Regions from separate parts of the Homo sapiens genome. Here regions 2 and 3 are each linked to region 1. Evidence: fine-mapped expression QTL. A gene starts in region 1. Each other region holds a variant in brackets. All regions are shown on one strand. Distances are between the middles of the regions.

Region 1 (4,122 bases):
TTGGAAATTCACAATGGCATATTCTGCCCCTGAGAAGTCCTGCAGTAAGCAACCCTGTTCAGCTTTGTTTAACCCAGTGTTCCTTCAAACTCCCTTAAGCCTGAGCCACTTTTATCGAGGCAAACCTATTAACACCCTGTGGGATGCTGACCCAGGCCACCTTTGTATTACAGACACCCAACCCTGAGAATCATTCATATCCTAACTCCTCGTCTCTTATAACCTCTGTGCGTACACCCAGCTGCCCCTCAGAGCAGTCACATGAAGTACTAGACATGCCCTCTCACTCTCAGGGGGTCAGCCCAGTGCCAGGATCTCTGGCGAGGGTCCTCCCCTTCCCCCATTCCACACAGCTGCTATCCCACCGTGGGATTTACTGCCAAGGGCCGGGGGACATATCCAGCTACCACAGAACCAGGAAACGGGCACCCCTAACCTCACCTCTGTGCAACGGGGCAAAGCACAAATCATTACAGACAAAAGTGGGAGCTCATTAATATCTCCCTTCCCACCAATGGAGGTACCTGCCACTGTAGCCTGTCGACTTCTGGATATCATTTCTACTTCAAAACAAGACCCAGGTTTTGGCCTAGAATCCCAGAATCTTAGGGTTGGAAGATTCTGTCAAGGTCATCCCTTCCACTGTGTCCCCAACAGAATAGGTCCAGAAGGCCCATGTCATGATCAGACATGTTGTTAGCAGAACTTCTTCCCAGAGAATTGTATGAGCTTCCACTCTCTGGTCGTCCCAGTTCAGCCCTCTGAAAACACACAAGTATGTGTGTTTCCCTTCTCTGTGGCTTCTGCTTTTTCTGAAAGGCCCAGGGTGAGGCCTGCGGTTGGAGGTGCTCTGAGGTAGACAGCGTCTGGCTGAGGCACCCATTCCCAGGGGAGGAGGCTGAGCCCAGGTGGCTATTACCCCAGCTCATGACATGAGGCTCTCCCAACACTTACAGGATAACCCATCATTACCTCTCTGAAGGGCTCATTTTTACAAGTGAGGCCTTGAGGTCATAGCACAGAAAGACAGGGCCCCTGACACTGTGGTCCTGCCTCTTCCATTTAAGCTATAAACTGGTTCTCTGGATCCTCATGACTGGAGAGACAGAGAGAGGAGGCAGGTGAGAAGGAAGTATGGCTCCCCCTTTGCGCCAATAAAGCAGCCCCAGGAGGCACCTGGCTCCCCTGCCACCACTGGCCAGCCCAAAGTCGCCAGCTTGGAAACCAAAGCTCACTAATGAGATGAATATTTCAGAGCCCAGAGAACTGGACACCTGAGGGCCCTTCCATGACATCTGGCTCTGACCTGCGTTCCCAGGCCTACTTATCCCATGTCCAGGGTGCTCAGGTAGAACCCCAAACTCCTGGGTACCACGTAGAGGCCACAGAGGAGGGAGAGGAGATGGAGACCCCATAGGACAAGAATTGGTGCCGACCCCACAAGGCCAGGGCCTGGCCTCCCAGCAGCCTCCCTCTGCTTCCTCCCACTGGTCCCTGGCTCCTGCCCCAGTCTCTCCACTTGCTTTCCCTTTTCCCGTTTCTCTGTTTTGTTTTCACTCTAACCCAAAGAAGTCACGAGGAGGATGTTACTCCCCTGTAGTTCTGTGAACCCAGCCGGGAAACAGTGGCTGGAAGTGGGACTGGCAGAGGGCAAAGTCATGGTGATAGAGGTGGCCACTTCCCCATGCCAAACACTTGAGCTGCTCATTGGCTTCTGCCCCAGCTGCAAGCTAGGACCCCCCCTTCCCCACCCCTTAAATATTCACCTGTCTACACCGAGACTGGCCTCAGCGCGTGTGGGGGCAACCTGGGGTCCGTGCCAGGCCCTGGCTGTCTCCCCTCCCTCTTCCCTCTTCTCACCAGCTGAGGGCCATGAAAGCCCTCATCCCACACAGCTGGCCACTCGGGCTGGCATGGTGGATAGGCCCTGCGACAGAGAGGCCACTCGTGCCCGAAAGAGGGAACACGAGGACACCCCCAGACCCTGGCTCCGCTCACCAGTGCCCACAACACGCTGCTGGGCTCCCAAGGCTAACCAGGTGCCACAGACCCGGCCGCCCACCCGCGCGCCCAGGGAGAGCGAAACGCCAAGGGCCAGGAGGGGAGATCCCCATCTGGAACGGGCTCCTTGGGCCCAGGAGCGGGCAAGCCGGGAGCGCGCTCCGAAAAGTTTAGGCGCCCCGGCGCATGGCCGCCCCAGCCCTGGACCAGTCCCCACCGCCCACAGTCCCCAACGGCGCCGGCCCCGGCCCCCTGGCTTGCCTGCGCCGTTCCAGACGGAGCGTTCCTGGCCTCGGAGTGTTGCAAGTCCTCCGGGGCCGGGCAGGGCTAGGCTCGGCTGGGGCTCCGCGCCCCGCCCCGTCGCGCCGGCCTCGTGGGGCGGGGCCTCAGGGCGCCGCCAGGGGGCGCAGGGGTCTGTCCCGGGCGCGCGCGCCTCTCAGAGCCCCGACGACGCCTCACTAATAACACAGGGGTATTTTCGGATTTAAAGGCAATACATGATACTGATAGGAAGCTAGAAAAGACACAGAAATGCAGGGAAGAAAGTAATTTCTCTCCACCCCTCCTAGTTCCCAGGGGGAAGCGTTCGCTTTGGGTCCTTCTTTGGCTATTACATTTCTGTATGTATTTTGTTTTTCTACAGTGGGGTATATTGTATGGTGTTTTGTTTACTGCCCTTCTTTTTACTGTTTTATGATGAACATTTTTCTTCTCACTAAATAGTCTTCAAAAGCACAATCTTAATGCCGTGAAGTATTCCATTGCATGGCTATGCGGATTAAATTAATTTCCTACTGGAGGCCGTTTGTTTCCCATTTTTACATTACAAATAAATCAGTAATTAAAATCCTTGATAATTCTGTGTTTTTGAGATAAATGCACTTTTCGAGTTTAAAACTGCAAACATGCAAACCTAGAATCTCTGTTTATAATTACTCAACCAGGAAAGCAGGTGCTTTCCTCAAGTCAGAATTCAGAAGTCCTACATTGAGATGTAGATTACTACTGTTAGGTAGGTCTTAACCCTCATCTCAGTGAAGAATGCAGTAGCAAAGGAGGAAACAGTTTTGAGGAAGTTCTGAAATATTACTGGAGCCTGGGCATGGTGACTCACACCTGCGATCCTAGCACTTTTGGGAGGCCAAGGCCAGAGGATGGCTTGAGCCCAGGAGTTGGAGACCCAGCCTAGGCAACATAGAGAGACCTTGTCTCAATTTAAAAAGAGAAACATTACCGAGCCTTGCCTGAGTTTCTGTGGTTCCAAAGTCCAAGTTCTTTCCATGACACCAAGGCTGCCAGTAGTTGACCAACTCTGTTTAAAGTGCTTATCTCATGTTAATAGCTATAGGTCAGCACCACACCACCACTGAATGTCCTTTTTTTTTTTTTTTTTTTTTTCCAGACAGGGTCTCGCTCTGTCACCCAGGCTGGAGTGCAGTGGCGCCATCTCGGCTCACTGCATCCTCCTCCTGGTTTCAAGTGATTCTCCGGCCTCAGCCTCCTGAGTAGCTGGGATTACAAGTGTGTGCCACTACACCCAGCTAATTTTGTTTGTTTGCTTGTTTGTTTTGTTTGGTTTGTTTGTTTTGTAGAGATGGGTTTTCACGTTGTTGCATAGGCTGGTCTCAAACCCCTGAGCTCAAAGCAGTCAGCCCACTTTGGCCTCCCAAAGTGCTAGGATTACAGACATGAGCCACCACGTCCAGCCCCAAAACAGAGATTTAAAAAAAAAAAAAAAAAAAAAAGACAGATTTTTAAAAACTGCCCCCCATACACACACTATGTATGTTTATTTCTGTAAATATAGTTTAAGTAGGAGTTACTTAGGGGGACTAGTGGCCGTTATGGTGGGCTAGCTCCCCAGACACCCCAACCCTTCAGTGTACTTCCAGTTCCTACAGGCCAAGAACCTCATTTTAGGAAGTCCCCACCCAAGGTGTGATCTCACCAGAGCAAGTACAGTTCTGCTCAGTGTCTGTCTCCCCCTTGCTCAAGGAGTAGCGCCCTAGGTGAAATGCATGGCCCATGGAATCTGTCCAGATCCCTGACATTTTTTCATGCTCTCTACACTTGTGCTGTCTTAGTCCATCTGGGCTGCTACAACAAAAATACCTTAGAGTG
Region 2 (4,122 bases), 42 kb before region 1:
AATCCACTCACTTCAGCCTCCCAAAGTGCTGGGATTACAGGCGTGTGCCACTGCGCCCAGCCAGCTATACCATTTTTTTCAAGTTTTTGTCTTTGAAGCTGGGATGCATCTTACAATTCATAGCATGTCACACTTTAATTGGCAGCATGTTTCTCTTGTGGTACATAAAATTATGGCAGACTTACAGTCATAAGCACCTTAGATTCTTTGAAGTATAGTTGTCTTCTGTTGTGGTGTTCATTTACTTTCAGGCCAGGGCACATTGACACAGAAATTCCACACTTCCTTAGGAGGCATTCCTTTTCATTTCAACGAAAACTTCAGACAACTGACGGGGTTTTGCAGATAGTGAGTAGAGGAGGTGCAGCAGGTAAAAACGATTCCAGAAAACCAGGGCAAGAGGGGCATGCAGGCCTGCTGTAGTGCAAAGGACTTTGTGATGAGCACACAGGTCTTTTTTTGAGATGGAGTCTTGCTCTGTCACTCAGGCTGGAGTGCAGTGGCACCGTCTTGGCTCACTGCAACCTCCACCCCCCGGGTTTAAGCGATTCTCCTGCCTCAGCCTCCTAAGTAGCTGAGATTACAGGCACACGCCATCACATGTGGCTAATTTTTATATTTTTAGTAGAGATGGGGTTTCACCATGTTGGCCAGGCTGGTCTCAAAACTCCTGATCTCAGATGATCAGCCTGCGTCAGCCTCCCAAAGTGCTGGGATTACAGGCGTGAGCCATCGCGCCCAGCCTCACACAGGTCTTTAGGTGGCTGGTGTCACAGGGTGGACTTCAGTCAGGCCCATTCAGAGCAGCTCCTCCTGCCTGGCCTATCATGAGGGTTCAGGTCCTTACACCTTATTGTCTGTTTTCACAGTGAGAATATGGGAAATTCTCTGGCATCTGTTTTCTGGGAAGGTTTACTCTATTTCAGCACCAAGGACCTAAGACAGGCAGCTGCATTTCCTAATCCTGATTCCTTAAAGTAAACTGTTACAGCCAGTTAGTGTGATCCTGGAGTGTGTCCAGCTGCAGAGGCAAGAGCTAGTACCTGTGTGGCAGACCGGAAATAGATTTCAAAATGCACAGCTGCAGAATTCAGGAGTAGAATGAAGGCCTAGGGTCAAGCCCTGTTTTTCATCGTGGGCTCCTCCATTCACGCTCGTTGACACCTTTCCTGGCCATGCTGTTTAACTTCCATGTCAAGAAAAAACCCTGACAAAGCCTGGTAATACTGACACAAGTGGAGTGTACTTAAGCAGAGAGGGAGTGATGTTCACTAGGCTGTTGTTCTTCCCCACCCTTTGGCATTTGTGTCGTGTCCTGACGCCTTGTTTGTGTCTTCCGCCTTCAGTGCTGTTCCCTCGTCACACCAATGCCAGTGCTCGAGACAACACCATCAACCTGATCCACACGTTCCGGGACTACCTGCACTACCACATCAAGTGCTCTAAGGTGAGGGGGGTGCCAGCATCTCAGCCTCTATGCTCTGGGTCTTTTCCTCCACCAGAACTCCTGACAGAAAGTCATTCCATTAGTCTACGCTGTGGATATTGACTCTTAGGTAAATAATTCTAGAGGCTTCAAGAAACCATGGTCTTTCTTCATCAAGCCACTGTCCCCCATCCCTCCCTATAGCAGAGATGAATATTTGTTTCCAGAATTGCTCACCTTCCTGCTTCCCTGCAGGGCCTGGGTCAATCCCAGGGTGTATGTTCCCAACCGCCCTTGATGACCTCTCTGATGAAAGACAGCAAAGCTGTCTTTCTAGACCATGACTGTGCTTTAGTACCTGTTATGTTTGTTCCCAGGCCTATATTCACACACGTATGCGGGCGAAAACGTCTGACTTCCTCAAGGTGCTGAACCGCGCACGCCCAGATGCCGAGAAAAAAGAAATGAAAACAATCACGTAAGTTAGGCAGCACCCCAGCGACCACCTTCCTCTCCTGAGTCACCGAGAAGGAAGCAGTGGGCGCTGGTGGCCTGGTCCTCCATGTATCTGGGCACTGGCTACATATGAGGTCAGCAGGGCTAAGTAGATAAACCAAAGGTGGGATTCCATGTTCTCACTGCCATATAGGCCAGGATGGGTTTCCTTGTTTCCGTATCTTTGTGAGCTATGAGAATGGCAGCTAGGAAATAAACAAAGTTTACCAAGAGACTGTTCTTTTTGGGCCTGAGTTATGAGGTCAGTCTTGTGCTTTTGGTGGTCTTTCTGGAGAGATGGAGTAAGTTGCTTAGGGACCTTTAATTGGGTAAATAGGCCTGAAACCACCCCACTAAGTGTTCTTTTTCCTGGTCCACTCTCAGCAGGAAGTTTGCATGCAGAGGAAGGTTCTCTTTATCAGGGATAGAATTGAGGAGAGCCGTGA[C/T]GGGCGCTGTGGCTCACGCCTGTAATCCCAGCACTTTGGGAGGCTGAGATGGGTGGATCACAGGGTCAGGAGTTCAGGACCAGCCTGGCCAAGACGGTGAAACCCCATCTTTACTAAAAATACAAAAAAAATTAGCCGGTCGTGGTGGCAGGTGCCTGTAGTCCCGGCTACTCGGGAGGCTGAGGCAGAGAATTGCTTGAGCCCAGGAGGCAGAGGTCGCAGTGAGCCAAGATTGTGCCACTGCACTCCAGCCTGAGCGACAGAGTAAGACTTAGTCTCAAAAAAAAAAAAAAAAATTTGAGGAGAGCCCTAAATAGGGGTGTGGCTCTGCATGCAGGAAAGGCGAGCATGGCCTAGAGCCTAGAGAGTTCCATCTTTGTGAAAGGTGCCAGACCTTGGTTCTTCTGATGAAATTCAGGCAGTCCTGTCCTTAAGATAAGGTAATAGTGTTCATTTGCTGGTTTTTGTTTGTTTGTTTGTTTTTTGGTGGGGGTGTTGGGGGAGACAGAGTCTCACTCTGTCGCCCAGGCTGGAGTGCAGTGGCGCGATCTCAGCTCACTGCAGCCTCTGCCTCCCAACTAGCTGGGACTGCAGGTGCACACCACCACGCCCGGCTAATTTTTTGTATTTTAGTAGAGATGGGGTTTCACCATGTTGCCCAGGCTGGTCTAGAACTCGTGAGCTCAGGCAGTCCACCCACCTCGGCCTCCCATCTGCTGTCTTTTGTACCAGTTGAACTAAAAGTCTTGAGGTCATAAGCCTCCCTCACAGCCAGTGTTATTTGCCAGCACCCCAGTACTGTTGTTGTTTTGTTTTGTTGTTTTGTTTTTGTTTTTTGTTTTTTGATACAGAGTTTCGCTCTTGAAGCACAGGCTGGAGTGCAGAGGCACAATCTTAGTTCACTACGACCTCTGCCTCCTGGGTTCAAGCAATTCTCTTGCCTCAGCCTCCCAAGTAGCTGGGACTACAGGCGTGCGCCACTAAGCCCCACTAATTTATTTGTATTTTTAATAGAGACAGGGTTTCACCATATTGGCCAGGCTGGTCTTGAACTGCTGACCTCGTGATCCACCTACCTCAGCTTCCCAAAGTGTTGGGATTAAGGAGTGAGCCACCGCGCCCAGCCCAGTACTCTGTGATCCCCAGCCAGGCTCAACCTCCTGGGCTCAAGCAATCCTCCCATCTCAGCCCCCCAAGTAGCTGGGACCACAGGCATGCACCATCACAGCTGGCTAATTTTTGTATTTTTGTAGAGACGGGATTTCACCATGTTGTCCAGGCTGGTCTCGAACTCCTGGACTCAAGTGATCCTCCCACCTCAGCCTCCCAAAGTGTTGGGATAACAGACATGAGCCACCACACCTGGCCCAGCACTCAGTACTCTTGAGGCAAAGTTTTAGTGGGTGTGGTACGCCTAGGGCTTTACACTCTCTCTCTTGCATTTGAGGGCTCTTCTACCAAGTTAGTTTCTGCTGTCATTTGAAAGGATGAGAAAGAGATCAAGGACTTGAGCAGTAGGTGAGGGTTTTCAGACATTGTCAAAAAGCAGTTTAAGGCCAGGTGCGGTGGCTCACGCTTGTAATCCCAGCACTTTGGGAGGCCGAGGCAGGCGGATCACCTGAGGTCAGGAGTTGGAGACCTCCAGCCTGACCAACATGGAGAAACCCCATCTCTACTAAAAATACAGAATTAGCTAGGCATGGTAGTGCATGCCTGTAATCCCAGCTACTCTGGAGGCTGAGGCAGGAGAATCAG
Region 3 (4,122 bases), 23 kb after region 1:
ATGAGCCACTGAGCCCAGCCTTGATACAATTCTAATAACCTACCTATAGTCTTTATTGATGTTGACAGTTGTTCCCCAGTGTCTTTTTTTCTAGTCCAGGATCCAATTCAGGATCACGTACTGCATTGATTTCTAATTTAAATACCATTTAAAAGGAACACTGAGTTCCACAGAACCTAACTTTTGTTGCAAGATCTCTAGGTTGTTTGTAGAGTTTCATCATTACCAGTAACCCTGGGCCTTCAAATTTTTAATATATTTCAGAGTTTATCTTTTGGGCTGATCCCTAAAACAGAATTACTAAGTAAACAGATATGAACATTTTTAAGGCCTTGATGCATATTGGTAATTGCTTTCCAGAAAATTATACAAATTTGATGTCCCTACAAACCATGTATGAATACTCAACTTCCCATATTCTTAGAACTTCAGGATTTTATTCTTGTTTTTAATATTGGCATTTTGGTTAAGTGAAAATCAAATCTCGTTGTTTAACTGCATTTTCTTTATTTCTTTTTTTTTTTTTTTTTTTTTGAGACGGAGTTTCACTCTTGTTGCTGGAGTTTCGCTCTTGAGGCTGGAGTGCAGTGGCGCAATCTCAGCTCACCACAACCTCCGCCTCCCAGGTTCAAGCGATTCTTCTACCTCAGCCTCCTGAGTTGCTGGGATTACAGGCATGTGCCACCACACCCGGCTAATTTTTTGTATTTTTAGTAGAGACAGGGTTTCTCCATGTTGGTCAGGCTGGTCTCAAACTCCCAGCCTCAGGTGATCTGCCTGCCTCTGCCTCCCAAATTGCTGGGATTACAGGCGTGAGCCACCGCGCCCTGGCTTTTTTTTTTTTTTTTTTTTTGAGACAGAGTCTCTGTCTCCCAGGCTGGAGTGCAGTGACATGATCACAGTTTACTGCAGCCTTTACCTCCCAGGCCCAAGAGATCCTCCTACCTCAGCCTCCTGAGCAGCTGGAAGCACAGGCGTGTACCACCAAGCCTGGCTGATTTTTTAAATTTTTTGTAGAGATGAGGTCTCCCTCTGTTGCCCAGGCTGGTCTGGAACTCCTGGGCTCAAGCGATCCTCCCACCTTGGCCTCCCAAAGTGCTGGGATTACTTGTACTTTGGGTGCAAGTTAGCCACCATGCCTGGCTATACTTGGATTTTCTTGATTCTTTTGAGTTTTCACATTTTTTCATATTTATTAGCCATTTATTAATTTATTAATTGAGGTCATTGTGTTTTCACATTTATTTAAGGTCTGTAATCACTCCTTGGCCTTTTGGCTAAGATCAAGTATATTTAAGTTCGTTTTTTTTTTTCTTTTTGAGAGAGTCTCACTCTGTCGCCCAGGCTGGAGTGCAATGGGGCGATCTCGGCTTACTGGAACCTCCACCTCCTGGGTTCAAGCGATTTCTTGTGCCTCAGTGCCCAAGTAGCTAGGATTACAGACGCCTGCCACCATGCCCTGCTAATTTTTGTATTTTTAGCAGAGACTTGGTTTCACCACTTTGGACAGGCTGGCCTTGAACTCCTGGCCTCAAGTGATCCACCTGCTTCAGTCTCCCGAAGTGCTGGGATGCCAGGCATGAGCCACTATGCCCGCCTGAGGTTTTCTTTCTTTCTTTCTTTTTCTTTCTTTCTTTCTTTCTTTCTTTTTCTTTCTTTCTTTCTTTCTTCCTTCCTTCCTTCCTTTCTTTCTCTCTCTCTCTCTCCTTCCTTCCTTCCTTCCTTCCTTCCTTTCTTTCTTTCTTTCTTTCTTTCTTCTTTCTTTCTTTTTTGAGACAGTCTTGCTGTGTCACCAGGCTGGAGTGCAGTGGC[G/A]TGATCTCAGCTCACTGTGACCTCTGCCTCCCAGGTTCAAGCTATTCTCCTGCCCCAGCCTCCCAAGTAGCTGGGACTACAGGCACGCGCCACCACGCCCAGCTAATTTTTGTATTTTTAGTAGAGACGGGGTTTCACCATGTTGGCCAGGATGGTCTCAATCTCTTTGACCTCGTCATCCACCCACCTCGGCCTCCACCCGCCTCGGCCTCCCAAAGTGCTGGGATTCCAGGCATGAGCCATGGCGCCCGGCCAAGGATTTAAATTTTAAAGTAACTAAAACAGTAATTATTTCCCTTGTTAGATCTTCTGTTGCTTTTTTCTGAATAATGTATGCCTTTAAGGAATAATAGGAATAATAAATGCCTTTAAGAATAACATACGCCTATTAAGGAAAATTAGAATGACGCATTTGTTATTTTTAGCTTTAGAAAATCCTCTGCTATCCAGATTGAACATGTCTTTCATTTTCTTCTAATTTTCTGTGGTTTAATTTTATATCCTTAACCCTTTAATTCGGGTAGAATTTATTTTGGTGGATTCTGTGAGGCACGAGTCTAAATTGCTCTTTTGTAAATAGCTAGTCACTCATCCATCATGTCTTTCCAGCATCATTAATATTCTGTTTCCCTCTGTCACTGTTAACTATTATTGCAGTAATGCTGCATAAGAAGCCAGTTCAAAACTCAGAAGCCTACAATCATAAGCATGTATCTTGCTCATGCATCTGTGGGCAGGCTGAGCTTTAGCTGATCTAGCTTGGGCTCTGCTGGGCTGGGTTGACTTCCAAGCTGTGAGTGGGATCCAGGTGGCTCCATGTGCCTTTCATCTCCCTTAGACCAGCAACATCAGTGGCGTGGGAAAATATACCTCGCCTCCATTGAAGTGATGCACAGTCACAGGGTGAACGGTATGTTTACAGTGAGAGATGAATAACTGGAAACTGAAATGCCATCTACCACACCTTTGGAGACAGCCTTTCAGGAAACTAGATTGTGTTGAGATAAAGGCAGAATGGAGTCTAGAAAATGGCACAAGGTCAAGGGAAGATTTTTTTCTTTCTTTCTTTTTTTTTTTTTTTTTTTGAGACAGAGTCTCACTCTGTCACCCAGGCTGGAGTGCAGTGGCACGATCTCAGCTCACTGCAACCTCCACCTCCCAGGTTCAAGTGATTATCCTGCCTCAGCTTCCCAAGTAGCTGGGATTACAGGCACCCGCCACCATATCCAGCTAATTTTTTGTATTTTTAGTAGAGACAGGGTTTCACCTTGTTGCCCAGGCTGGTTTCGAACTCCTGAGCTCAGGCAATCCGCCTGCCTTGGCCTCCCAAAGTGCTGGGATTACAGGCGTGAGCCACTGTGCCCGGCCAGGAAGTTTTTAAGGCAGGGAGATGCTGGAATTTGCTCTTAGGCTGAGGAAAATTGCAAAATATGTAGAGGGGTAGGTAGTCACAGAAATTGTTTTCTCTAAGAAGGATATTTGTTGAAAGTAAAGGAAATGACGTTGGGGCTTGAGGTTTGGAATAACAACTGCAGATGAGATGGGGCCTCAGCAAAACGGAACTGCCAAGCACTGGTATCAGGGACTTGGGATGGCCTGAACCATCGCAGCCCTGAGTCATATGACACAGCAGTTTTCTTCAGCCCTGCCCGTGAGGTAGGAGACTGTCAGGTTGGTTCAGGTAGGTCTGAAGGTTGGTAGGTTAAGGCTGGAGGTCAAGGGGGTCAGGGGATCAGGAAGCTAACAGGTGGTAAGTAGTTCAAGGGATTGAGCCTAAGTTCAAATATAGGTGCAAGAGGGGCTGAAGGGCTGGAAGAAAACAAACTGCCTGAGGAGCTGGAACTGGAGGTCCATGTGTACTGGGGATGGGAGGGGATCAGGGAAAAGGACATTGGAATTTAGGTTCTCAGAGGCAGAGAAGTTCCAGGTGAATCTAGGGTGTGGCCATGTGAGCAAGCTGCTGAATTATGTCGAAGGCATTGGAATTGAAGTCAGGAACTGAGGTCAAGGCAGAGTTCAGAACCACCTATGCGAAATGCACACTCTTGGGCCCCAGCCAAACCTACTAAGTTTGAATCTCTGGGGGACGGACCAGAATTCCGTATTTTTACAAGCTCCCTGAGTGGTTCCTAGGCTCCCTAACACTTGAAAACTGCTGTGCTATGATGTTGAATGAGCCATGCTTGTTGGAATTACCTGATGGCAGGAATCAGGCAGGAAGACTAAAAACAGGTGTTGAAATCCTTAGAGAGTCTGGGCTGATCAGTGTATGGGACTGATGAGGAGGGGTGGAAAGAAGTTTGTACATGA

Direction of the effects. Alleles are on the strand shown, and positions count from the first base shown. SD is a standard deviation of normalised expression in the study named. Not every link is listed here.
For the expression in visceral fat of the gene that starts at base 2,300 in region 1, allele C in region 2 goes with a lower level than allele T (small effect, 0.18 SD a copy in GTEx).

What was found. PIP is the estimated chance that this variant, and not a neighbour inherited with it, causes the effect. A credible set is the group of variants that fine-mapping cannot tell apart.
Region 2: its variant is the best candidate, but not a certain one, in a credible set for the expression of TMBIM1 in visceral fat (GTEx, PIP 0.54).
Region 3: its variant is the best candidate, but not a certain one, in a credible set for the expression of TMBIM1 in whole blood (TOPMed, PIP 0.89).

Annotation. Positions count from the first base shown.
Region 1 is chr2:218,290,204-218,294,325 of GRCh38, forward strand. TMBIM1 (transmembrane BAX inhibitor motif containing 1) reads right to left here and starts at 2,300. Exons shown (of 12, transcript NM_022152.6): 1 at 2,263-2,300. All of the region lies in intron 2 of PNKD (PNKD metallo-beta-lactamase domain containing), which reads left to right. RefSeq lists enhancers at 868-1,832, 1,833-2,795, 2,978-3,824 and a silencer at 2,078-2,557.
Region 2 is chr2:218,248,018-218,252,139 of GRCh38, forward strand. ARPC2 (actin related protein 2/3 complex subunit 2) reads left to right here. Exons shown (of 11, transcript NM_152862.3): 9 at 1,347-1,447; 10 at 1,804-1,904. Among named protein-coding and RNA genes, the nearest start is that of TRY-ATA1-1, 4.3 kb to the left of the region's middle. The variant C/T (reference allele first, on the strand shown) is at 2,368.
Region 3 is chr2:218,313,391-218,317,512 of GRCh38, forward strand. The region is part of intron 2 of PNKD (PNKD metallo-beta-lactamase domain containing); the gene reads left to right. The region is part of intron 1 of LOC105373881 (a long non-coding RNA gene); the gene reads right to left. LOC105373880 (a long non-coding RNA gene) reads left to right here and starts at 3,360. Exons shown (of 2, transcript XR_923909.3): 1 at 3,360-3,493. The variant G/A (reference allele first, on the strand shown) is at 1,813.